2 linked regions of the Homo sapiens genome follow. The protein of the gene in region 1 purifies or fractionates together with the protein of each later gene. This does not show direct contact. Each region holds a gene or a part of one and is shown on either strand. Other genes may lie near its edges.

Evidence for each region.
Region 2: the proteins of SLCO2B1 (region 1) and JPH1 purify together in Homo sapiens (affinity purification with mass spectrometry; one large-scale study listed by BioGRID and IntAct). This does not show direct contact.

What each region holds. Positions count from the first base shown.
Region 1 is NC_000011.10:75,157,607-75,161,106, reverse strand, and holds part of SLCO2B1 (solute carrier organic anion transporter family member 2B1), read right to left. Parts: intron 1,276-3,500; exon of another isoform or gene 1,178-1,275; intron 1-1,177. UniProt on the Homo sapiens protein: Mediates the Na(+)-independent transport of steroid sulfate conjugates and other specific organic anions.
Region 2 is NC_000008.11:74,255,541-74,259,040, forward strand, and holds part of JPH1 (junctophilin-1), read right to left. Parts: intron 1-3,500. UniProt on the Homo sapiens protein: Junctophilins contribute to the formation of junctional membrane complexes (JMCs) which link the plasma membrane with the endoplasmic or sarcoplasmic reticulum in excitable cells.

The DNA of each region.
Region 1 (3,500 bases):
CATTTTCAATTCTCTTGGGTGTACACCTAGGAGCGGAATTGCTGGGTCATATGTTCATATACAATAATGCTATGTTTAACCATGTGAGGAACTGCCAAACCATTTTCCACAGTGGCAACACCATTTTACACTCCCTCCAGCAATGTCCCAATTTCTCTACATCTTTGCTAATACTTTCATTGTCTGCCTTTTCAATTATAGCCATCCTCATAGGGTAGAGGTGGTATCTCAGTGTGGTTTTGGTTTGCATTTTTCTAATGACTAATGATATTGAGCATCTTTTCATGTGCCTACTGCCATTTGTATATCTTGCTTTGGAGAAATGTCTATACAAACAGGTTGAGGAATTTGGCTGAGGAAATGGAAGTGCGTGTGGCTAGGGAGGAGTCCCTCTGCGGGGCATAAACACTCAGAGGAAGCAAGGAACTGTTGAAACAAAACTGACACCTGACGAGGAGACGGGAAATTGGCCTAGGGAAGAGGAGTGTCATGGGACACTCAGTGGGAGTCACTTTAAAGGCAAGGAGGAAATAAGGCAGTTCAAAGCAAAGGCTCCCAGAGGAGGTGGAGGGGACCATTTCTGAGCCTCAGCTCCTCTCACCAGCCGCAGTGGGTTTCCTGCTGTAGTCTGGGCTCCATGCCACAGGCTTTCTGTGCACTGGCCCATGAACCCTCTCCACAGCTCCGTCCCTTTGGTGTCTTATTATCTCTATGCTTCTGATAAGGACACCCAGGCTCAGAGGAACTAGCTTTGCTGGTTAGCATTGGTCCCAGGACTCAAGCCCAGGTAAGTGTTAAACTCAACATCACTCAATGCTCCTTGTACAAGTTTGACAGGGGGAAGAAGCACAGTGCTTTTCTCTGTCTTGGCCCACCCAAACCTAGCCAAGTCACTTCATAGGTAGCAGTGCCAGTCCACCAAGGGGCCAAGCCAACCAGGTGAGAGAGCGGGAGCTGAGGCTGGGAGCAGAAGTCCTTGACCTGGAGCCCCAGCTCTGAAGGAAACCCAAGGAATGGATGGGGGAGAGGGGTGGAAGCCTGTGGGCCAGCTCAGAATGTGAGGCCCCCGCCTCCAGGCCAGACCCTGGACCCTCCACTTAGCTTCCTGGGTATACTGGTGGCATCCTTGCTGTGCCCCAGCCTGTCTAGCCCCAGTTCCAGCCCCCTGGCCTCTCACCTGCCCACTCATGGAGCCTGCTCACCTGCCTCAGGTGATCTCCCACTCCAGCCTCACCTCTGGCTCTCCCTGAAGCTTCAATCCCAGCCTTTTCTGCCAAGGCTCAAAGCCTTCCTGGGAGTACTTTATCCTTTAGAGATATGGCTGTTTGTGGAGGGCAAAGTCCACAGCCTGTGCCTCTGGGCAGGGGAGGGAAGCACTGGCCACATTCCTCCGGGTTCTGAGAGGAGCACGAGTCATGTATTGGGGGTCAGCTGGTCACTGAATGGGGCTTGTCAGGCAGGCTGCCCACCCCCTCCGAGCCTTTCCTGTGGGCTGGGGTCTCTGCTGACGCGCTGACAGCAAACCTTCGCCTCCCTGACTCAGGGCGGAACTCCCCTTGGAAGGATGGTCCAGTCCAGGACTGCGTGTCCTCCTGTGGAAGGGCACTGAGACCCTGCCCTGTGCTGTGGGGCCTTTGTCAGGGGCCACCCCTGACAGGAGGATGGGACGGCCATGGGACTGAACCTGGGCTGGGCAGGCGGTTGCCTGCGGGAATGAAGGGACCTGGGGCAGAGAGCCAGGCCCTAGTTTAAAAAACCCAGTCCCTCTCTCTCCCAGGTGGGCAGCTAAGTTTTGGGGTCCCAGGTAGGCCAGGTGGCTCCAGGGGCTAGGGACCCACAGCCCGAGCTGGCCCGCAATGGGTCTGTGTGTCTGACTGTCAGTCGGTCACTTGGCTGATCACTCATGCAGGCACATCGTGTCCACCTGCTGGTAAGCCAGCCAGCCGGCGGGCTACTGTCTTTCAGGAGAGCTGTCCGTTCAGGCCGTCAGTCAGCCACCTGCCTGCAGCTCCTCATAAGACAGTCAGACAAGTTCCTGAAAGTCTGTCAGCCACAAACTTCGTTTCCCAGGTATCTGGTCAGTCAGAGACTCACCCTTCAAGGGGCTGCCCTTCATGGGTAGAGTCAGCCTTCTCCACACCACCTGAGTCTGGGTGATGAGGAGCAAGGTTTCAGAGACCAGCCTGACTGCAAGGACCGCCTTCCTTTACCTGTTCTCTGTGGGAAAGGCCCAGGATTCTGCCTCCTTTGGCTGCCTCCCAGCAGCAAAGGACAGATCTCAGGGAAATGTGAGGCTGAGAATAGGCTTTAAGGCCTCAGACCTGGGTTGGAATCCCAGATGTGCTACAAGCCCACTGTGTGAGCCTGGGCACATCCCTGAGCTTTCTGAGCCTCAGTTTCCCCATTTGTAAGGTGAATATAACAGTATTTACTGATGGAATTCAGGACACACTATTCTCCAAATATGGCACCTTGGCCACATTTGAGAAAACAGTAGAAGCAGGTCATAAAACCTAGGATAGTCACCCCACTCTGACCTTCTCCCACCTTTCACCCTGAAATAGGTCATAAGATTCTCATTTGAGAGTTGCTGTCTTTGTACCTGGAGAAAAAAAAAACAGCCTTAACTTTGAAGATGCAAGGACACAGAGAAGAATCTGAACAAACAGGCCTTGCTAGGTTCCCCTAAGTGTATCACCATTAGCTCACACACTCTTTGTGCAATACTTCCACAACTATATACTTCTTCATCAAACTTGGCATAAAAAGTCACAAGTTTTTGACATTTTAGGCTAGATGATTAAAAAATAATAAACCAGCCTGGGCAACATGGTGAAACCTCATCTGTACTACAAATGCAAAAAATTAGCCAGGTGTGGTGGTGCATGCCTGTAATCCCAGCTACTCGGGAGGCCGAGGCAAGAGGATCACTTGAGCCTGGGAGTCAGAGGTTGCAGTGAGCCGAGATCATGCCACTGCACTCCAGCCTGGGCGACAGCGTGAGACCCTGTCTCAAAAAATAAATAAATAAATAATTTAATTTAATTCAATATAATAAAAACTAAAAAGTTTAAGAATACACACGTTTTCCCATTTCTTTGGGTCTTCATTTCTGAAGGCCCCTGTGTCATGTAAAACTTATATTAAATAAATTTGGGCCAGGCGCAGTGGCTCACGCCTGTAATTCCAACACTTTGGGAGGCCGAGGTGGGAGAATTACCAAGCCCAGTAGTTCCAGAGTAGCCTGGGTGACATGGTGATACCCCATCTCTATGTAAAAATAATAATAAGTAAATTAAATTTTTAAAAGCCAAATAAATTTGTATGCTTTTCTCCTGTTAAGCTGTCTTTTGTTATAGGGACCTCAGCCACCAGCCTAGCAAAGAGTGAGGACAAGAAATCTCTTCTCCTCTATACGACCTCAAAGAGGTAAGGCCTTTGGGGCAGCTGGCCTGGCATATAGGTGGCCCTTGCTCTCTTTTCCTGATAAATATTCAAGC
Region 2 (3,500 bases), on another chromosome or scaffold:
AAATGGGATCTAATTAAACTCAAGAGCTTCTGCACAGCAAAATAAACCACCATCAGAGTGACTAGGCAACCTACAGAATGGGAGAAAATTTTTGCAACCTACTCATCTGACAAAGGGCTAATATCCAGAATCTACAATGAACTCAAACAAATTTACAAGAAAAAAACAACCCCATCAAAAAGTGGGTGAAGGATATGAACAGACACTTCTCAAAAGAAGATATTTATGCAGCCAAAAAACACATGAAAAAATGCTCATCATCACTGGCCATCAGAGAAATGCAAATCAAAACCACAATGAGATACCATCTCACACCAGTTAGAATGGCGATCATTAAAAAGTCAGGAGACAACAGGTGCTGGAGAGGATGTGGAGAAATAGGAATACTTTTACACTGTTGGTGGGACTGTAAACTAGTTCAACCATTGTGGAAGTGGGTGTGGCGATTCCTCAGGGATCTAGAACTAGAAATACCATTTGACCCAGCCATTCCATTACTGGGTATATACGCAAAGGATTATAAATCATGCTGCTATAAAGTCACATGCACACGTATGTTTATTGCAGCACTATTGACAATAGCAAAGACTTGGAACCAACCCAAATGTCCAACAATGATAGACTGGATTAAGAAAATGTGGCACATATACACCGTGGAATACTATGCAGCCATAAAAAATGATGAGTTCATGTCCTTTGTAGGGACATGGATGAAGCTGGAGACCATCATTCTCAGCAAACTATCACAAGGACAAAAAACCAAACACCGCATGTTCTCACTCATAGGTGGGAATTGATCAATGAGAACACATGGACACAGGAAGGGGAACATCACACACCGGGGCCTATCATGGGGTGGGGGGAAGGGGGAGGGATAGCATTAGGAGATATACCTAATGCTAAATGACGAGTTAATGGGTGCAGCACACCAACATGGCACATGTATACATATGTAACAAACCTGCACGTTGTGCACATGTACCCTAAAACTTAAAAAAAAAAAAAAGAACTCAAACAAATTTACAAGAAAAAAACAACCCCATCAACAAGTGGGCGAAGGATATGAACAGACACTTCTCAAAAGAAGACATTTATGCAGCCAAAAGACACATGGAAAAAAGCTCATCATCACTGTTCATTAGAGAAATGCGAATCAAAACCACAATGAGATGTCATCTCACACCAGTTAGAATGGCGATCATTAAAAAGTCAGGAAACAACAGAATAATGCAGTTTTAAACTAAACAACATAAGATTTAATTAAGATGGAAAATATCTGAAAATACTGCCAGCTCCTGAAAATAGGTAATTTGCCATGGAAGCGTTCAACATGTAAGCTATGACAGGCATCTTTTATTCCAGGGTTAACAACTTCTATGCACGAACACATGCATTCCAAACAATGGAGACTTTTATATCTGAGATATGTAAATTAAATGGCCAGCCTAATTTAGAAGTACTTGAAAGCCCTTTTCGAAAATGTCTATCTGATTTGCTCACCCTGTAAATGCAAAGTGGAGAGCATGAGTTATGCTCCCTTAAGAAGATCAATAATACCCGCGACAGAAAAGGCTTTCTATACAGTTGCTGAAGAAAGTGCTGGCTGTGTGTCAAAGGGGACTGCAGCCTCCCCGACAAGCTCTGGTCTCAAATAGACCCGCTGTCGTCCATGCTACTGTGATGTATTCATTCCTGACGGACAACTTGCTTATATGAAGCTGTTTTAGCTAAGAAAGGGTGGCATTACATTTTCCCACAATATTTTTTTTCCCTTCAAATGCTTTTACACCAGAAAAGGCTTTTAAAACCATTCAGTCTGGGAAACCAAGATGATCTTTCGTATCATTTACCTCTTGTTAACACCTGATAGAAATCTAAAGGGACCCCATTCCCCAACAGAATTAACAGAACCAAGAAATTACCATCTGCAGACAACAGTAAGTTTGTTTGCTTTCAAAGCCGCTCAAGCCCAGTGCCTCCTGATCAGTCAGGTTCTTTCCAATGGCAGCACTGCTAGGGAGGAGAGAACAATTTCTCCTGGGTGGCTGAACCCTTTTCCCAGCTCTCACGCCCTGGAACAGCTAATTTGCCAATATACGTAGGTACCAGGGAAGTATGAGTTCATTTCACGCCAGAGGAGAGTTTATTCCTACCAGAGGTCGCTGCAAAAAATGGAAAGGTTCCTTTTCCTAAAAATTGCATATATATAAAAAATGATTTAAATCTCAACCAGAGGTTTAAAAGAGATGCGTGTGAAAGAAAATACCCTTCTCAGTGGTTGCCTTGGACTTGAACTCTTAGAGAAGTCACTCTGTGATGATGATATCTATCATTCAACAACCACCTTGGGTCCCTCCCCAGCCTTTCTCTTATAAAAACCGAATCTTCTTTGCCTGGCCTTTTACTGTCTTCTTTCTTTGCAGGAACCTCCTGCCCCCATTCTCCAGGTCATTTCTCATTGCTCCATCCTTGATTATAGCCAAGTTTCTAGCTTTTCTACAAATCTTGCTATTTTGTTCACTTTGACTTACATCGTTCGTTAGGACTCAGTGATACCCTGTGGGTTCCGACAGCGTATACCCCTCACCAGAGCCAAACATGAATCGAACACCTACCTCATGCAGGGTGCTGGGCTAGGGACAGGATGCTAGTTATACAGCTTGATTTAATAAAAACCAGTGTGGAAAAATCCTTTACCAAGAAATGTAACTTTTAACATAAATTGAAAACATTTATTTTGGTTTCTTCACCTAGAAATCTGTTGATGCCTCAAACAATCACGGAGAATATATATAAATAGGTGAATATTGCCTTTTTGAAACTCAAAACAAAAACACTAGTATATTATAGAGAGGGGTAGAAAGAGTCTACTAGGAAACTACTAGAAAGTGAATTAAGAATTTAAACTATTGCAAATATTTGTTGATTGCTATTTTGTAACATCTGAGAGGCAGATGACCAAGATCGATTTTTTTGAGGTTGTCACTTTTATTTCTTCCATTGTGACATGCATTTTCCTCTTACTCTGTGCAGATTAATCTCTTTAAGTGGTATGCTGCTATACTTCCTAACCACAGTCCTTTGAACTTTGAACTTTAGTTCAGATACGTTAAAAAAAAGTCACAGTACTGACTGGCTCTTCTCTTACTACTAAAAGTGCCTCTGAATTTGGGGGTATTTGTTATAGAATCTGTAGCTGTCACTAAAATAATTTCTTAGAATCAGATATTTTAGATTCTTGTCTAGTTTACTGCTATCAGCTCAAACTTTGTTGGTCATATGTAGAGGGGAGGAAGGGTGAGACTCTGGGGAATAACCCATCTCCAGGGCTAACACTCAGACCTCGGGTGATATTTGTTACTACAAGTTGAACATTCCTAATCCAAAAATCTGAAATGCTCCAGAATCCAAAACATTGTGGGCACCGACACGATGCTACAAGTGGAAAATTCCACATGACCGATGGTCACAGTCAAAATGCAGTCAAAACTTTGTTCCAT